Homo sapiens: one gene and its partners. The protein of the gene in region 1 interacts with the protein of each later gene in a pairwise test. Each region holds a gene or a part of one and is shown on either strand. Other genes may lie near its edges.

Region 1 (5,275 bases):
GGTTACCAGAGGCTCAGAAGGGTATTGGGGGTGGGGGATAAAGAGGGATTAGTTAATGGGTACAAAAATAGGTAGTAGGATTAAGATCTAGTATTTGGTAGCATAATAGGGTGACTGTAGTTAACAATTGCATATTTCAAAAAAACTAGAGGACTGGATTTGGAATGTTCCCAACATAAAGAATTTGTAAATGTTTGAGGTGATAGATATCCCAGTTACCTTGATTTGATCATTATACATTGTATGCTTGTATCAAAATAGTGCATGTACCCCATAAATACGTACTGTTCTACACCTATAAAAATTAATTTAAAAAACTTAAGCTGACATGGATCTTAACCTGAGGGGGAAAAATATTTCTTAGAGACCTGAGGGGGAAAAATATTTCTTAGAGAACTAGGAAAATACCTCATAGAAGCAGCCAGGGATATTAACAGGCATAATTTATTAGAGAATAGTAATGTGTGTGATTGGATGACTCGGAGTTTTTGGGGTTTTTGTTTGTTTGTTTGTTTGAGACAGAATCTCGCTCTTTGGCCCAGGCCGGACTGCAGTGGCGCTATCTCGGCTCACTGTAAGCTCCACCTCCCGGGTTCACGCCATTCTCCTGCCTCAGCCTCCCAAGTAGCTGGGACTACAGGCTCCTGCCACCGTGCCTGGCTAATTTTTTTTGTATTTTTAGTAGAGATGGGGTTTCACCGTGTTAGCCAAGATGGTCTCGATCTCCTGACCTCGTGATCTGCCCGCCTCGGCCTCCCAAAGTGCTGGGATTACAGGCGTGTTTTGTTTTTTTTTTTTTTTTTTTTTGAGACAGTCTCACTCTGTCGCCCAGGCTGGAGTGCAGTTGTGCGATCTTGGCTCATTGCAACCTCCACCTTTCGGGCTCAAGCAATTCTCCTGCCTCAGCCTTCTGAGTAGCTGGGATTACAGGCGCACGTTACCACGCCTGGCTAATTCTTGCATTTTCAGTAGAGACGGTTTCACCATGTTAACTAGGCTGTCCTTGAACTCCTGACCTCAAGTGATCCACCCACCTCGGCCTTCCAAAGTGCTGGGATTACAGGCGTGAGCCACCGTGCCTGGCCATGGATGACTCAGTGTTTTGATGACCTATACTAACCTGCCCATGCTGGGGATAGTGCCGAGATATACCCATTGATACAGAAATTACCTGCTGGTTTTGTCCTTCCAAATAAAAGATCTAGTATATCCTTCAAAAATACAAAAATTCCCTCCCTATGTTTATTTGGTTTGTTCCTAGGGGAAGCATTGGAAAGTTTAAGGCAGTGTGGTGGTGACAGTACACTGGGCCTTTTGCTTTGATTATGAAGCTTATTTGCTACCTCTTTGTTTGCCTGAAAGTTATATCAGAGATGGACATAAAGCAACAGAAGAAGATGTTCAAGAAAATTCGAGGGAAAGAAGTTTACATGACTATGGCTTACGGCAAGGGAGACCCCCTCCTCCCACCCAGGCTGCAGCACAGTATGCATTATGGGCACGATCCTCCAATGCACTACTCACAGACAGCTGGCAATGTTATGTCTAATGAACATTTTCATCCTCAGCATCCATCTCCGAGACAAGGTCGGGGATATGGGATGCCCAGGTAAGACATTGACAGATTTGTATTTTCATGGTCTAGGGAAATATGAAGCAATTGAAGAGATCCAAGAAGATAGAATGCCATCAAGATGAGGGTCTCTGTGACATACAGACTGTATTTCATTAATAATAGTTAGCCCTAATGCCAGTATTGCAGAGAGCAGAGCTCTTTCTAGTTGAATGTTTTTAGAAAGACAGATTAGTTCTATTTAACTACAGAGACTGACTACTTAGGTATTAGTGAATAGAGAGTTCTAGTTTCCTTTCTCTTTATTCTTAGGAATTCATCTCGGTTTATAAACAGGCACAACATGCCGGGCCCTAAAGTTGATTTTTACCCAGGCCCAGGTAAAAGGTGCTGCCAGAGCTATGATAACTTCTCTTATAGATCTCGGTAAGTATTGTGTTGAAAGTCAGAGAAAATTGGTAAGTCTGATTTCATTGCTGAACATTAATGTTTTAAAAAGTGTCAACTTTGAGATATTTGAACTGTTATTTAGAAATTAGGAACAAGTTACTATATTTCATCATTTTTACTTTTTTATTATTTGAACCACTTAAGTTCATTTAGACGTAGTCACCGCCAGATGAGTTGTGTGAATAAGGAGTCCCAGTATGGATTTACCCCAGGGAATGGACAGATGCCCAGGGGCTTGGAAGAAACTATTACTTTTTATGAAGTTGAAGAAGGGGATGAGACTGCTTATCCAACTTTACCTGTGAGTGGATCAATGCTTTACTCAAAAAGCTGTTTACTTTTTTCATTTATTTTTTTGAAGTAAAGGCAATGTGGATAAATTTTAGATTTTGTACAAATAACCAAACAAAGCCTTTTCTGGAAAATGAAAATGAGAAAAGAGACATTTTCTCCCAGCTGTTCCTAGAGAAGGGAATAGAGGTAGACTTGATAATCTTGCCTATAGAGTATGGGTTAATATTTTCTATTTTCTTGATTTTTACTTCATATTTTTTGTATTCTAAACTGCATGGAAAACATTTAATTACAGAGTTCTCTTACAATAGCAGTTCACATTGTTAGGCTAGTTTTTAAACTGCCTTTTAAAACATCCCTCTAGCTTTTTTTTCTGACTATATAGTGAGAACTGCAGTGTGTGTGTGTCTCTCTGATACAGAATCATGGAGGTCCCTCTACAATGGTTCCTGCTACTTCAGGATACTGTGTTGGAAGGCGGGGACATAGCTCAGGCAAACAGACTTTGAATTTAGAGGAGGGCAATGGCCAGAGTGAAAATGGTGAGTCAATTACAGTTAAATATTTTTTAAAAGATTCTTGTGGCATTAGCACATCAGGCCAGTGAAGTAGACCAATTTGGTTTTGGCGTCTCTCTCTGTTCCAGTAGCTTAGTTCTGAAAGATTTATATAAGTTCTTAATGCTTGCTGGGTTTTTGAATATGTCCTGGTATTTCTCAGAAGAGTAGACTTCTATTTCATTAGGCTGCTACATTGTTATAACTTGTTTTCAGCTCTCTGCATAGGTCTTTAGTGAGTTTTGACTTGGTGTCAGATATCAGTATGGAAAACATCTATTCGTTGTTAGTAGGGCACTATTGATAGTTGTCCTCACCATTTGTATATGTTAGGCTTTTCGTGTGACTGGCTATTATTTTTTAAGACTACTATGAAGTAACTATTCGATAGTTACTTCATACTATGAAGTCTATTTGATCTATAAACATTACTCTTTATTGAACCCTACGTGATACCCACTCTACTAAGTCATTATATTCATAATATAGTCCTTCGTGTGCTCTTCTGAGGAATGTGCTGTCCCTATTTTACATATGAGGAAATTGAGATTCAGAGGGTAAATGACATGGCTAAGGTCATATCCTTGGTAAATGGCAGAGATATAATTTTTTGTAACTTTTATTGAGATATAATTTACATATCATACAATTCAGCTATTTAAAGAATACAATTCAATGGTTTTTTATTCAGAGTTGCATACCATCAACACAATTAATACTAGGACATTTTTATCACCACAATAGAGAAATCCTGTGCCCATTAGGAGCCATTCCCCATTTGCCCCAACCCCCAGCCCTTGGCAACCATCAGTCTGTTTTCTGTCTTTATGGATTTGCCTCTGCTGGACATTTTTTATAATTGGAATCGTATACACACACATAGCCTTAACAGTTTTTATGTTGACTCCTACCATGGAATGTGTTTATTTTTACCTTGTTACTTTTAAAAGATACTGTATATCCCTATTGAAACAATTGTGGAGCATTGAGTGGCTTAAGGAGGTGTCAGGCATTCCTAATGACTTGACTTATGAATAAGTTCCTTATTTTCTTGTACTCTTTTTTTCTACTAGTGTAGAAAAAAAATAGATATTTTTAGGAATTTAATGAGTAAAAAAATCTAGTGCAAGAATGATCTGTGAAAACTTTGTACGTGTGTGCATGCGTGTGCTTAAGGACATTTACTGTCTGCTCTCTTATTTAGATGACCCTTTTGTCTTTTAGCTCTATGGGTAGTGTGGCATATTTGAAATAACCAAATCTTTGCTCCCACCTTAAATCTGGAGGAGTTTCATGCGTGTGTGTTTGATAAGTGGTGTGTTTAAGAATCAAATTTAGTTTAGAACTGCGGGTTTATATTTGGTGGAAAACTGTCCGATTGAGTATTGACTTTCTCTGCATTTCAGTGGTACAGAAATCTTAAAAGTACTTCAGTCTACTGAGCCATCCTTTGAGGACACACTCATTTTACATGTATTACTTACATGAAACAGATTGAAAAACAGATGAGGCATACATGTTCCCTTAATGTCCACCTAAGGAAACAGTGGATTATACTCATACTTTATAGACACCATTGAGTATTTAGTATGTGTAAAGCACTATGCTAAGTTACTTTCACTTCCATTAACCATCCTCAAAAGGCCTATGAGCTAGGTACTGTTACTCCATTTTACAGTGAAGAATTGAGGCACAGAGATTAAATAACTTGCCTAAAGTCATGTAGTTAATCAGAATTCAAATCTAGGCAGTCCTCACTCCAGAGCCTATGTGCTTAATCACCACACTGTAGCCTCACTGGAAAAATTGGACACAACTGAGTTTTCACTTCTGCCTGACCTCTAAGAGCTAAGTGGATTTTCAGAGGAGAAATTTGTACAGCTTACAGCTAGTCTGTGGCTTCAATATCTGTTGACTAGTGTGAAAGCTCATATCACTTTTCAGGATGTATGCATTTTAGTTTTGAACATATAACCATAAAACTGGTGGAAAAAGCAAGTGCTGGCCATTTGGCTCTGCTGAGCTAAAAAGACCTATATAAACACATTTCTTCTGTCTTGTCTTTTTTCCCCAGGGCGATATCATGAAGAATATCTTTATCGTGCAGGTCAGTAAGATCTAGAAGTGATCTGGCATTCATCATTGTTTATAGAATTTCAAGCTATAAAATAATGCTCATTTTTTACTTTGGCTATATTCTCTAGAGCCAGACTATGAAACTTCAGGTGTTTATAGCACAACTGCATCTACAGCAAACTTGGTAGGTATTTAATAATAGCAAAGAGTTATAGCTCCTACTATGTACTAGGGCACTGTTAAGAGCTATACATATAAATGTATTTAAATCAGAACAACCCTGTGAGGCTTAGTATCATTCTCATTTTGAAGATGAAATTGAGAC
Region 2 (4,798 bases), on another chromosome or scaffold:
CTACTAAAAATACAAAAATTAGCTGGGCATGGTGGCACATGCCTGTAATCTCACCTACTTGGGAGGCTGAGACAGGAGAATTGCTTGAACCCAGAAGGTGAAGGTTGCAGTGAACCAAGATTGCGCACTGCACTCCAGCATGGGCAAGACAGAAACTCTGTCAAAAAAAAAAAAAAAAAAAAAAAGGCGTTTTAGAACAAATACAAAGACAAAAGAGGGAAAGAAGTGCCAAAAATAAGAACCAGAACTACACTCAATTCCTGGTCAAGTGTGGCGGCTCACGCCTATAAAACCAGAACTTTGGGAGGCTGAGGTGGGTGGATAACCTGAGGTCAGGAGTTCAAGACCAGCCTGTTTAATATGGTTAAATACTACTAAAAATACAAAAATCAGCCAGGCGAGGTGGAGGGCTCCTATAGTCCCAGCTACCTGGGAGGCTGAGGCAGGAAAATCGCTTGATTCTGGGAGGTGGAAGTTGCAGTGAGCCAAGATTGCATCATTGCACTCCAGCCTGGGCAACAGAGTAAGACTCCATCTCAAAAAAAAGAAAAAAAAATTCCTAAACCCTTTTGTCATCAAAATGGTCCTACTTTTTCATTTACATAGCACTTCACTTACAAAGCTTTCATTTTGGAATACTCAAGATTAAAGTTTGGCTCGGTAGACACAAGTAACTCCCAGGAAAGCAAAGCTGCTGTGTAGCAGGGTATACTCAGCTCAGACTTTGTGACTCTACAACTTGGGTTTTAGTGTCCTCTTCCATTAGAAATACACAACATTGGCCTGGCACAGTGGTGCAGGCCTGCAGTCCCAACTACTTGCCTAGGGTGCAGGAGTTTGAGGCCACAGTGAGCCACGATAGCATTACAGCACCAATGCACTCCAGCCTGAGCAAAAGTGAGACTTTGCCCAAAAAAAAAAAAAAAAAAAAAAGACCACACTATAATTTTCTTTCATCTTCCATAAATGCCTTGAAATACTGCATATTATTCAAGTTCCACATACTGTTTTTTTAAATGCAAGGCCTCATTGCTTTCCCTCACCATTCCCCCTGGAAAAAAGTCTGCCTTAAACACAAAAATTGCAGTGAGATATAAAAAATGACACTCTTCCCATATGATCCAGCAGTCACACTCCTTGGTACTTACCAAAATAAATAAAAAACCTAGGCTAGGAGTGGTGGCTCACGCCTATAATCTCAGCACTTTAAGAGGCCAAGGCGGGCGGATCACGAGGTCAGGAGATCGAGACCATCCTGGCTAACATGGTGAAACTCCGTCTCTACTAAAAATACAAAAAATTAGCCATGGGCGGGCGCCTGTAGTCCCAGCTACTCGGGAGGCTGAGGCAGGAGAATGGTGTGAACCTGGAGGCGGTGCTTGCAGTTAGCCAAGATCGCGCCCCTGCACTCCAGCCTGGGCAATACAGCAAGACTCCGTCTCAAAAAAAAATAAAAATGATTTAAAAAACCTATGTCCATATGAAAACCTGCACGTGATGTTTATAACAGCACTATTCATATTTGCAAGAACTTGAGAGCAACCAAGATGTCCTTCAGTAGGCGAATAAACAAACCATGTTTGGATAAACAAACCGTGTATGGATAAACAAACCATACATCCAAACAATGGAATTCAGTGCTAAAAAGGAACTATAAAGCCACAAAAAGACATGGAGTAATCTTAAATGCATATTACCGGCTAAAAAGACAATCTGAAAAGATTACATACTACATGATTCCAACTATATGACCTCCTGGAAAAGCCAAGACTACAGAGACAGTAAAGATTGGTGGTTGTCAGGGGTTAAGGGAGAGGGAGGAATGATTGGCCAAAGTACAGAGGATTCTTAAGGCAATAAAACTATTCTATTAGGGATAAAAGACTTTAAGGTAGCAGGTAAAAAAAAACAAAACAAACAAAAAAATTCTATACTATGCTATTGCTACAATGTATTTTGATACCACAATGGTAGATAGATGTCATTATACGTTTGTCAAAATCCATAGAATGTACAAGACCAAAAGTAAACCCCAATGTAAACTATGAACTTTGGGTAATATTGACATGTCAATGTAGGCTCATCAGGTGTAACAAATGTACCACTCTGGTACAGCACTTTCACAGTGAGGGGGCACGGGGAGAGAAGGAGAGGAAGGGAAGGAGCAGGGAGAGGAAGAGGGAGAGAATAACAAGGGTTCTATAGGAACAATATACTTTCTGCTCAATGGTGCAGCATGTAGACAGTGGGGGAGTGAGTGAGAGTGTGTATGTATGTGTGTAACAAGGGTTATATAGGAACACTATACTTTCTGCCCAATTTTGCTCTAAACCTAAAACTGGTCTAAAAAATAAAGTTGGGGTCGGGTGCAGTGGCTCACGCCTGTAATCCCAGCACTTTGGGAGGCCGAGATGGGTGGATAACTTGAGCTCAAGAGTTGGAGACCAGCCTGGCCAACATGGTGAAACCCCATCTCTACTAATAATACAAAAATTAGCCAGGCATAGTGGCGGGCGCCTGTAATACCAGCTACCTGGGCGGCTGAGGCAGGAGAATCGCTTGAACCCAGGAGGCGAAGGTTGCAGTGAGCCGAGATCACGCCATTTCACTCCAGCCTGGGTAACAGAGGGAGGCTCTGTCTCAAAGAAAGAAATAATAATAATAATAAAAAGTTGAGATTACAGGTATAGCAGATGCACCTGTAATCCAAACTTCTCAAGAGGCTGAGGCAGAATTGCTTGAGTTCAGGAGTCTGAGACCAGGCTGGGTAACATAGCACGACTACATCTCAAAAAAATAAAGCCTACTAATTAAAAAATAAATGAGGCCAGGATATGGTGGCAAACACCTATAATCCCTGCATTTTGGGAGGCCAAGACAGGAGGATGGCTTGAGGCCAGGAGTTTGAGAGAAGCCAGGGCAAAATATGAGGACCCATCTCCAAAATTTGAAAAATAATTTTTTTTTAAATCTCACTCTGTCACCTGGGCTGGAGTATAATGGTATGATCTCGGCTCACTGCCTCTTGGGTTCAAGTGATTCTTCTGCCTCAGCCTACTGAGTAGCTGGGATTACAGATGTGCGTCATCATGCCCGGCTAATTTTTCTATTTTTAGCAGAGACGGGGTTTCGCCATGTTGGCAAGGCTGATCTTGAACTCTTGAACTCAAGTGATCCACCTGCCTCGGCCTCCCAAAGTGCTGGGATTACAGGCATGAGCCACCGTGCCCAGCCAAAAATGGATTTTTGTTAAAAATTTTAAATTTACTTGGATGTAAAGTTAATAAAGCATGTTTCCAAAACACTTAGAATATTGTGACATCACTGAGGGTCCAAATTGATATTTCTGTATCCTCGTTTAAAACAACCAATCAAGGATACAAGTATTTCACGACAAAAAAAATTAAACACTTCAACCTGCACATTCTCTTATCTGCTCTTCTCCAGGTGTTTACAGAAGCCCCTTTCCCTCCCCCACTGGTTTACCAGGTGAAACAGGTAATTCCTCAAGAGCAAATGACCTTCTGTCCACTTGGCAAAACCATCAAGAATGTTTAATGACTACAGATCTCCCAATTCAGCGTCACTTCCATATTGGCAAGGAAAATGTTTAATGCTCTGAAAGAACGGAACAATTCAATTCAGACATTGTAGAAATACTTTGCATAGATGAGCACAAGTTGATATTCAGATTGGACATAATTGCTTTTAGCCTCAGAAATTGGTCTGGTAGCCTAGACAGGGAAATAAGTATTCCTCTGAATAGTAGTCATAAAATAACTCACCACAGCAGCAATATAACATAAAAACCGTTGCTAAGAAAGCTTATTAGCATTTCTAACTTGTTAAATGAGAAAGACATGTACAAGTACGATATTAAATATTAAAACATTTAAGAATAAAATCCACTTTTTTTGAGACAGGGTCTTGCTCTGTTACCCAGGCTGGAGTGTAGTGGCACAATCATAGCTCACTGCAGCCTCGACTTCCTGGGCTCAAGCAATCCTTGCACCTCAGCCTCCTAAGTAGCTAGGACTACAGTCTCATGCAACCACGTCCAGCTAATTTTTTTATTTTTTGTTGACATGGGGTTTCTCTATATTGCCCTGGCACAACAATCCTTAATATACTTCCTTTCCTACTGAAGTTATCTTTTTCGTTTGTTAAAATATTTTTATTTCATTTTACTTTTTGTAGAGATGGGTTCTCGCAATAATGCCCAGGCTGGTGTCAGCACTCCTGGTCTCAACCCATCCTCCCTCCTCAGCCTCCCAAAGTGCTGGTATTACAGACATAAGCCACCATGTCCAGCCAGAAGTTGTCTTTTTCTAAATTAAGATAGCTTATTAGATTTTTCCTCCACTGCCTTCTAATTTTTCAGTAGGTACTCTGGTTCTCTATTTTGTGGAAGACCAACTATCCACATTAAAAAGTTTAATATATACTTAAGAACTGAATTGTGTCCTCCACCTCCCCCAAAGTCCTATGTTGAAGCCCAACCCCCAATGTAACTATCTGGAGAGAGGGTCTTTAGAAGTTAAGTTTAAATGATGGTCAAAGGGTGGAGGGGTCTAATTAGATAGGGCAGTGACCTTGTAAGAAGATAACTCCTCCTGCTATCCCCCCAGAAAAGGTGGCTGGCTACCTGCAAGCCAGGAAGAGCCATCACCAGAACCTGACCATGCTGACACCCTGATCTTGGACATCCCAGCCTCCAGAACTGTGAGAAAGTAAATTTCTTTTGTTTAAGCTCCGTGGTCTATGGTATTTGTTATGGAAGCTTGAGCTGTCTAATACA
Region 3 (5,314 bases), 9.5 Mb from region 1:
TGGTTTCTGTATTAAAAACAAAATGCCCAAACATAGGCGAGTGGTTGAATAAACTATGTGTGGCGCAGCCACACAATGGAGTACAATGCAGCTGTAAAAACGAACGATGAAGATCTCTGTGAAACAATATGGAGTGATTTCCAAGAATGCTGTTAAGTAGGAAAGGCAAAGTGCAAAGGAACATGTATAGTATGCTATCCTTCGTGTAAGAAAGGAATATGAGAAAACATGTATGTATCTGCTCATTTGGGCAAAATAAATACAGGAAAGGTTAAACCAGAAACCAAAGGGGCTGATTACCCTACAGGGAGGGCCAGGGAAAGAAGTGGAAAGAAATGGGGAATGGGAACAGGGTAGAAGGGATGACGAAGGAGTGACATTTCTCCGAGTATAGGTTTTTGTATAACCCTGACTCTTTGGATCATAGTAATGATGCACATACCCAAAATATAAATAAAAAATTAAAATCAACCGGGATATTGGGGTGAGGGTACCCCAAATCAAACAGAAACAGGTTCAACTAACAATATTACAAATGAGTGTCTTAACCACGCTGAAGGAGAGAGGAAGAAAAGATCTAAGATACATAACTTTGGAGAGCAGTATTTTGACTATATCCTCTAAGGCCAAAGACAAAAACAACTGTACAAAAATATAAGTTATTAACATGTTTGCAACAGGGGCATTTGTTAGCAATTCAGGCGCTACTTTATGTATCTACTGACCAGAAATAAACAGGTATGTAAACTATTTGATAATGAAAGCCAGGTCGGAGAACGAATCTACAAATAAGTCTAGAATGATTGGAATTGAAAGTATCAATACAAGCTCCTGGCTTTTAATAGCTATGCATACAGATAGATACCAAAATAAATGTGGATGTGTCTATAGGCATGGGTGTATACATACATTATTTCCTAACCCTCTCCATAGAGAGAGCCTTAGCAGCAATGAAACGCCATTAATAATGAACACACACCGAGATACTGGTTGGTAAATATCATTCCCCAAGAAAGGGAACCGGGGCTCCTCGTAGAAGTTGTTTTAATCCAGGGCTATAAGGGGTGTGTGTGTGTGAGGGGAGGGGGGCACACACATGCTGAATCTGAACATCTTATTGTGCCAGAAAAAGGTACCAAAAAAGGATAGGGTCATATCAAAAGACCACAGAACCAACCAAAATGACTTCCCAATGGCCAAGGCTAGAACAGTTCAAAGAACAAAATAATGATATAATTAGATTAAATTTTTATTTTATTTTATTGCAAGTTCCAGGATACATGCGCAGGATGTGCAGGTTCATTACATAGGTAAACCTGCGCCCTGGTGGTTTGCTGCACCCATCAACCCATCACCTAGGTATTAAGCCTGGCATGTATAACATAATTATTCAAGAGCCCATACTGAGATAAATAAATTGAAGAAATAAATGAATGAGGGAGTAAAGATAGCTCTTCCTTACAGAGGAATTCCAATTAATAAATGTAGCAGAAATTAGGAAAACAGAAAATCACCATTAGGTAATATTTGCTGTAGGCAAGATCCCTAGACAGATTTTAACAGTAGTGGGTCAAAGTCTGCGAAGAAACAGGAATATAAGAGGATCTATTGTGTTTCTTCTTAAAGAACTTTTCACACTATATTTATTACTAACAAAGAGGAAAATAGTAGCATTACACTGGGGCAGCATAACTCCCACCACTTTAACCAAGTGATCAAGGTGAGCACCACCAGTAATACAACTTATGGATGTCATGTACCCCTGACATGATCCACATAGAAGGGAACGAAATCACGTTTGCGGTAATGTCGCATAAGACCTAAAATTAGAGGTCCAATTATATGGATGCCTTGACATCTGGGGTAGAACAGGAGGACCCTGAATGGCCTCACCACAAGTTATCTTCCCTATTGGGTTCCCAGGGAGAAAGGCCCCCTGGCCAAAGTACCCTCCTTATTATCATGTTGAACAGACACAGTGCCTGCTTATCTCTGGGTAGCATGTTTCAGGTCCCCACCAGCCTGCAGAATTATTCAAACAAGCCAATCGTCCTACCCTGAACCAACGGTCACTTCATCCTCTGGTTACTACAAAGACTTCCCCCTGAAAGCCCCTGCTTGTTCACTCTCTTCCAGAGTGTGACACTGTGTGGCTCTACCTGGCGTGAGGTGCCCTCCTCTCTCCAGTTGTGAGTAAATGTTACTGATAAATTGCTGTGGATTCCGTCTGTCCAGTATAGGGTACCATGTGTTCAGCCGCCCCCATAACACTAGGGTGGGAATCCCTCCCTCGCCACTGGGAAAGGGAGGAGAATAAAACAGGTGTGCTTGCTACAAATGCACAACTTCAATCTAATCATAAGAAAACATGAGACAAACACAAATTGAGAGACATTCCACAAAATACCTGACTGGTATCTCCAAAAGTGTCAGGGCTGTGGAAGACCAATAAAGATTGAGGAAATGTCAGCCTGGAGGAGACTAAGGAGAAATGAAGACCAAATGCAATGAAGCGTCCTGGATAAGATCCTAGAATAGAAAAAGGACATCAGTGAGATATCTGGTGAAATTCACATAAAATCTGTAGATTAGTTAATAGTACTACATCAATGCTAACTGTTGGTAATTAACATCGATGTAGTAATGTCAATTAGTGCATCAATGTAATGTAGTAGTTAGTTTTGGTAATTTTTCTATGGTTATATAAGATGTTAACATTAAGGAAATCCAGGCGAGGGCTCTCTGTATAATCATTTTTGTAACTTTTCTGTAAGTCTAAAATTATTTCAGAGTAAAGAATTTTAAAAGACAAAATCAGTGGCTAAAGGGCTGGCAACCTATAAACCACACTGCTTAACAATAACCAATTGAAACATAGTTAGAAGGATGCATACAAAGAGGGATACATGCTCATACCACATGATTCATTAAAAAGATTATAAGAGATGAAAGCCCAGTCATCTTCAACACACAGGTGAATATGTATTTACTCTTCAGATGAGGAAAGCATTTTTAAGCATAAAAGGAATGAAATACAATAGAAAGAAAAATATCTATACAATCCAATATTTACAATTTAAAGCCCGCCATATCAAAATTAACCATAAACAAAACTAAGATGCAAAAGAGAAATATAACTTTCTGAAGAAGAAGAGAAAACCTGCCTGAGAAATTGCAAAGAGAGAACATGAAGTGATTAGCCATACAATTGAACCTAATCACACGTGAAGATAAGGGATACATAGAGAGTGGACTGGAGAGTGGACCACTGAGCAATCCAGCCGGATTTGCCTTTCCTATGAATCCCTAAACCTTGACCCTAGGTAATGTAGGCCAAAAAAGGCCTAGTTTATATAAAATTTATAGAAGGGCCGGGCACGGACGCTCACGCCTGTAATCCCAGCACTTTGGAAGGCCGAGGCGGTGGATCCCCTGAGGTCGGGAGTTGGAGACCAGCCTAACCAATATGGAGAAACCCCCTCTCTACTAAAAATACAAAAATTAGCCTGGCATGATGGCGCATGCCTGTAATCCCAGGTACTTGGGAGTGAGGCAGGAGAATCGCTTGAACCCGGGAGGTGGGGGTTGTGGTGAGCCGAGATCGCGACATTACGCCCCAGCCTGGGCAACAAGAGCCAAACTCCGTCTCAAAAAAAAAAAAAAAAAAAAAAAAAAGGCAAAAAAGAAAAGAAAGGAAATTTATGGAAAAGATATTGTTGTAATTTACCTAATTGGAAGAAGACTTGGAACCAACCTGGGAGCTACACTTCCCCTCAGAATCTTGCCACAAACAAGACGCAATCTTGTGGGTGGGGCCCAGCGTCTTAACGGTTCCTTCTCAAAGCAGTGGGGAGAGGACTTCAATTGGCTCAGCTTGGTCAGGTGACCTCCTTTGACCAATCATCTCCATACTGGGAGGCGGAGCCAGATTCCTGCCCCTCCCCCTCCTGGGGCTCGGGGGACGGGGGGCAGGGAAGGAGAAGGGGTTTCGAGAAACCAAGGGTGGGAGAGCGGGAGGGGCAGGAAGGATTGTGGGACAGGCGGGTGGGAGTGTGTGAGGTGGAAAGGGAGGGGTGTTCTGATTATAAGCCTGCCCCACCCGCTGATTTCGTCTTAGGTGAAAAGTGAGGCACAATGCCATTGTGTATGGCCTGGGCACTGGCCAGCCAGGGTTTCTTTGCTTTCTTTCTTTCTTTTTTTTTCTTTTCTTTTCTTTTCTTTTTTTTTTTTTTTTTTTTTTTTTTTTGAGACGGCGTCTCGCTCTGTTGCCCAGGCTGGAGTGCACTGGCGGGATCCCATCTCATGCAACCTCTGCCTCCCGGGTTCAAGCAATTCTCCTACCTCAGCCTCCCGAGTAGCTGGCATTACAGGCACCTGCCACCACGCCCGGCTGGTTTTTCTATTTTCAGTGGAGACGGGGTTTTACCATGTTAGCCAGGATGGTGTCCCTCTCTTGACCTCGTAATCCGCCCGACTCGGCCTCACAAAGTGCTGGGATTACAGGCGTGAGCCACCGCGCCTGGCCCCAGCGAGGGTTTCTACCAGGCCACGTCTCAACACAGACAGTTAAAAGCTCAAATTTAGTGGACGTGTAGCAGGGGATGCTTACTTAAAAAACGCATGGCCACTTGATGGCAAAAGGCTGTCAGATATTAGTGTCTCTGGTTCTCTGATATATTAAAGAAGGAACTGAGTCCTGACCAAAGATAGGAAAAATGTGTTGTCCTCTGCAGTGAAGCCAACAGAGCATTTACACTGATGCCTGGCAAAGGCGGCACAAAGGAGAAGACTTCCACCCATCTAATAATACTATCAATTGCAAAGCAGCCAATATTTGTTTGAATGTCCAACCCTCAGCCCACACTCCTGATTCCACTTCTTCCCTATTTGATTTTTCCCCCCCGCAGTCATCTTCTGGAATGCAATATATTTTAATCATATGCTGTTTTTGTTTTTTATTGTCTGTCTCCCATGGTGGAAAAATAAAAATTCCAGAAGGGCAAATATCTTTGTCTATTGCTCATTAATGTACCCTAAGTGCCTATAACAATGCCTGCTTCAGTGGATACTTTGAATGAATAAATGGATTTTTCTCCAGCCACACTAGCCTCCTTTTTGTTGCTCTAACACTAGCTCAGCAAGCATACTCCCATACCGTTGAGTGTTTTTCTGTAACAGCCTGGCTTTAGATATCCCTATAGCTACCTTCCTTACTTAGTGTACATCTCTGATCACCTTATCAGACATGTGGTACTTTTCTTCATGACAGTTAGCATGTCACTGTGTTGTTTTTGTTTTCTTTTGTTGTTTTCTT
Region 4 (4,798 bases), on another chromosome or scaffold:
AGAGGTAGACATGGGAGACTTTTCATTTTGTTCTGTACTAAGAAAAATTCTTCTGCCTTGGGATCCTGTTGATCTGTGACCTTACCCCCAACCCTGTGCTCTCTGAAACATGTGCTGTATCCACTCAGGGTTGAATGGATTAAGAGCGGTGCAAGATGTGCTTTGTTAAACAGATGCTTGAAGGCAGCATGCTCCTTAAGAGTCATCACCACTCCCTAATCTCAAGCACCCAGGGACACAAACACTGCGGAAGGCCGCAGGGTCCTCTGCCTAGGAAAACCAGAGACCTTTGTTCACTTGTTTATCTGCTGACCTTCCCTGCACTATTGTCCTGTGACCCTGCCAAATCCCCCTCTGCGAGAAACACCCAAGAATGATCAATAAAAAAAAAAAAAAGAAATGAAGGACTGACATTTACTTTCAAAATTACTATGAACATTATTCCTTCAGAAACTGAACACTACAAAATAGAAGAAATATGCTGCCACATAAGTAGAAAGGCCAACAACTTGTTTTAAAGTACCCTTGGGTTTGATATGAACTAGATCTAAGTATACAAAGCAATTTAAATCATTAGCAAAAGACTTGTTAAACACTTTTCCATCAAAATATTTTTTATTTATAATTTTAAAATCAGATAAATGAATTTAATTTTTAAAACACACTGTGTACAGTGTATGAGGACCTAATTAAATAGTTGTGTAACTCTAAATTTGCCAGTATCTTCTTGAGATCTTTCATCAATAAATCCAGTTTTCACTAATCTGTTATAATAGCACTATTTAAAAGGTCCAAACATTTTATTTAATTTTCTAGCTAGATAATTGAGAGTACTTAAATTCTCATACGACTTACCTTTAAGATTCCAGATAATTTTCAATAAACCCAGTTTTCAACATTCTACAGTATTAATCCTCTTTAAAATGTAAATATGTATCTTGTTAGAGATAATTATTTTTAATATTAAAGAAAGATGACTGCTGAAAATCTATTTAGTACCACAAAGGAGAGGTAGAACAGGCCTTACTGGAATCAAACTTTACAACTTCTCTTCAAACAGGATACAAATATGTTGATTCCAAATATCATGAGTTAAAACAAATCTATTTTACAAATGTTTTGCTCCAACATAACCTGCAATGATGCAGCTGAAAAAATTCATTTGGGTTCACTAAGGTAAATGCCTTTACATCTTTTAAAAAGTAATGGTTTCCCAAACACTTTTTAAAACTATTTTTTTTTTTACAAGTAAAGTCTTATGCACAATTCCAATATATAGAACAGATAAAACGCAAACCACAGTGCTAGTTGCTACACTGGTGGGATTCAGGCACCCTCCGCTGGTTTTCCCTAGGAAGACACTAAGGTGCCTCTATGGAATACCAGAAATCCTCCTGACAAAAATTTTTCCTCCAGTAGAAACCCTTCTATGTCCTTGTGACAAATAATAAAGAATTGTAAAATATCTGTTATCAAGCAAAACATGCAAGAAGATTACTCAGGTAGCAATTCCAAAACTGTCTTTTACAGTCCACTAAAATTCCTTAAAAAAGAGTTTGAATGGCTGAGTGCGGTGTTCCATGCCTGTAATCCCAGCACTTTGGGAGGCCGAGGCAGGTGGATCACTTGACGTCAGGAGTTCAAGACCAGCCTTGCCAATATGGTGAAACCTCACCTCTCCTAAAAATATAAAAATTAGCCAGGCGTGGTAGCATGTGTCTGTAATCCCAGCTACTTGGGAGGCTGAGGCAGGAAAATTTCTTGAACCTGGGCGACAGAGGTTGCAGTGAGCCAAGATTATGCCACTGCACTCCAGCCTAGGCAACAGAGCGAGACTCCGTTTCAAAAAAAAAAAAAAAATAAGAGTTTGAACAAGTCAGGATTTTTTATACTATATCTTCATCTTAAGAACTTCATTTTCAATTATAATTTATAAACTATGAAATCAAGTAGCAAAAAAAACAGTTCAACTGTTTAGCCTCCAAAATTTCTCAAATCTATCTAAACATGGACATCTTTTTGAAGGAATATTTATTACACCTCCTAATATTAAGATTTCTCAGCAAAGTTGGAAAATACTGCCATACTGCCATAAGCGTTAACTGAGATTACTATGTGAGCCAGAATATAGTAAAATCACGCTTATTTTAAAACTTGCACTACATTTCACAACAAATGATCTACTTTCATAATCTTTACGTGGAAAAGTAATTTTGCTGAGATCGTAAAGTTTTTTTCTTTCCCATTTATTTCTTCTCCTCCCATGTATGCTAGGAATGTTGCTCAGTAGATAGGAAGGGGTGGTTAAGGGGAAGTAACCAAGAGGTAGATGAGGTTGAACACAACCACCACTCTCCATAATCCTAAAAATAATCCTGCATCCCACAAATTGGGAACTACTTTTTGTTCAAATTTTCCCTATAACTCTACTGTACAAACTGTTCAGTTCTGTAGTAAGATTTGGTTCCTTGTTCTTTCAGAGTTTCAAAAATCTAGGTTAAAATTTTAGAGTACGTTTTTCATTTTCTCCATATATGCAAGCAGACAAGTCAAACTTCATTCAGTTTTCCAATTTACTCTTCAAATTTACACACACAAACTAACTGGCATCTTTAACGTGCCAATTAAAATCTGAATTTTAGGCTGGGCACGGTGGCTCATGCTTGTAATCCCAGCACTTTGGGAGGCTGAGGCAGGCAGATTACTTGAGGTCAGGAGTTCAAGACCAGCCTGGCCAACATGGTGAAACTCTACCTCTACTAAAAAATACAAAAAGTAGCCAGGCGTGGTGGCATGTGCCTGTAATCCCAGCTATTCAGGAGGTTGAGGCAGAAGAATCACTTGAGCCTGGGAGGCAGAGGTTGGAGTGAGCCAAGATTGCGCCACTGCACTCCAGCCTGGGCAACAAAACAAGACTGTCTCAAAAATTAAAGAAAAAAAAAAAACTGAGTTTCTAATCAAATTAATCATAAAATTATTCCAAAGAACTGAGTTTCTAATCAAATTAATCATAAAATTATTCCAAAGAACTACAGAGGTGGGCTGGGCCCAGTGGCTCACACCTGTAATCCCAGCACTTTGGGAGGCCGAGGCGGGCGGATCATGAGGTCAGGAGATCGAGACCATCCTGGCTAACATGGTGAAACCCTGTCTCTACTAAAAATACAAAAAAATTACCCGGGCATGGTGGCGGGCGCCTGTAGTCCCAGCTACTCCGGGCTGAGGCAGGAGAATGGCGTGAACCCGGGAGGCAGAGCTTGCAGTGAGCTGAGATCGCACCACTGCACTCCAGCCTGGGCGACAGAGCGAGACTCCGTCTCAAAAATAAATAAATAAATAAGAACTACAGAACTAATTTTAAGACCCAAAGTTCTTGAGCATTTTTTGCTTTTTTAAAGCAAAACAAACAGTTTCATTCCACAATGTTCTCTCTAAAAAAACTGGTGAATACTGAAAATGTATTTTTTCATTTATTTCTATCAGTGGCTTATTTTTAGTAACAGACAGAAATGGATGCAGAAATGGCATACAGATACCTAATAGCATTGTTCTTCAATGTTTAAATTGGAATTACGCTTGTACACAAATACTCAAAGCCACCAGTTACCAATTACTTGATTTGATAAAACTGTCCATGTCTACAATACAGAAGTAACTGTGTTTATAAAGCAAGTATGTTTATAAACTCCTTAATTCTATCACCGACATTACCAAGGTATGTTAAAATTTTCAATAGTTATCAATGAATTCAATCTGCAATGTCTTAAAAAAAGAAAACACTACATTTGACCCAAAATTGCAGGCAATTTCAGGTAACTAATCCCTCCTCCAAATACCCAAATTTCTAGCTAATTAAGCCTTTTATAATTAGCTTAAGCTATGAAGATATAGCAGTGACATTAAAAGATTAAGTTCCTTCAATACACACACACAAAAAACCTAACCATAATATATACAAATAATGGTCACCTTCAAATCTTTATTCTATATTTCATAACCTAGTTTCTGGTGCCTATACTTTCTGAAGAAGAACTCTCCTGTGCCATAAATCTGCAACTGCTACTCACTACTCACTTACTATATAGGTACACTAGATGAATGAATCCATGTTATGGTTAATCTCATTAAATAATCTATTTGAAAAATCAACTAATACTAATAAAAGGTTAATTTCCTAAAATCTGAAACTGTCAGAAGACTTACCTGATTTGTCTGGCTACTTAAGTATGGCTCAAAATCATCATCATTTACAGCATCTTTTTGATGAATCGAACCGTTTTGTACTGAAACTAAAAAAATGTTTGTATTAGAAGTGTTGTAGTTATCTTTATGAAACTCGCAGCACAACCTAATGTTTTTAATATTTTTCAAGCCAAAAAAAGTAATCAGAAAAAATAATACTGAGTTATTTTTAAGAACCCTCTTAAGGATAAACTATTTTAGATACAAATATTCATGTGCCACAAAAACTTAAAAGTCTTTTGATACATAAGCCCAAGATTACATAAACACAAGCCATATATACACTTCCCCTTACCAAAAACTTTAAGTAAATATCCCAATCTCAACACTGTAGTGAGTAAATTGTTACATAAGAATGTTGGAAAGAGTTCCCTAATGCTATATTTGAATGTAAAATAACTATTTCAAGTAGCGTTGTAGGCAATAAAAAAGATTTCTGAATGTTCTCTACCTTTGTTTAAATCTCTAAATTATTTAGTATAATAAAGAATGAAATAACTATTTTCGATCTAATTTGTTATAGTAAATGTCTTAAATGTCTCCAGTAAAGTTTAGG

Evidence for each region.
Region 2: the proteins of ALG13 (region 1) and ESRP1 interact in a two-hybrid assay, tested with the Homo sapiens proteins (one large-scale study listed by BioGRID).
Region 3: the proteins of ALG13 (region 1) and NXF2 interact in a two-hybrid assay, tested with the Homo sapiens proteins (one large-scale study listed by BioGRID).
Region 4: the proteins of ALG13 (region 1) and YTHDF3 interact in a two-hybrid assay, tested with the Homo sapiens proteins (one large-scale study listed by BioGRID).

The regions. Positions count from the first base shown.
Region 1 is NC_000023.11:111,725,447-111,730,721, forward strand, and holds part of ALG13 (UDP-N-acetylglucosamine transferase subunit ALG13), read left to right. Parts: intron 1-1,362; coding exon 1,363-1,609; intron 1,610-1,885; coding exon 1,886-1,999; intron 2,000-2,167; coding exon 2,168-2,324; intron 2,325-2,738; coding exon 2,739-2,859; intron 2,860-4,948; coding exon 4,949-4,981; intron 4,982-5,078; coding exon 5,079-5,134; intron 5,135-5,275. UniProt on the Homo sapiens protein: Catalytic subunit of the UDP-N-acetylglucosamine transferase complex that operates in the biosynthetic pathway of dolichol-linked oligosaccharides, the glycan precursors employed in protein asparagine (N)-glycosylation.
Region 2 is NC_000008.11:94,647,375-94,652,172, reverse strand, and holds part of ESRP1 (epithelial splicing regulatory protein 1), read right to left. Parts: intron 1-4,798. UniProt on the Homo sapiens protein: mRNA splicing factor that regulates the formation of epithelial cell-specific isoforms. Specifically regulates the expression of FGFR2-IIIb, an epithelial cell-specific isoform of FGFR2.
Region 3 is NC_000023.11:102,245,652-102,250,965, reverse strand, and holds the start of NXF2 (nuclear RNA export factor 2), read right to left. Parts: upstream 3,800-5,314; 5' UTR 3,728-3,799; intron 2,530-3,727; 5' UTR 2,408-2,529; intron 1-2,407. UniProt on the Homo sapiens protein: Involved in the export of mRNA from the nucleus to the cytoplasm.
Region 4 is NC_000008.11:63,174,822-63,179,619, reverse strand, and holds part of YTHDF3 (YTH domain-containing family protein 3), read right to left. Parts: intron 4,290-4,798; coding exon 4,204-4,289; intron 1-4,203. UniProt on the Homo sapiens protein: Specifically recognizes and binds N6-methyladenosine (m6A)-containing RNAs, and regulates their stability. M6A is a modification present at internal sites of mRNAs and some non-coding RNAs and plays a role in mRNA stability and processing.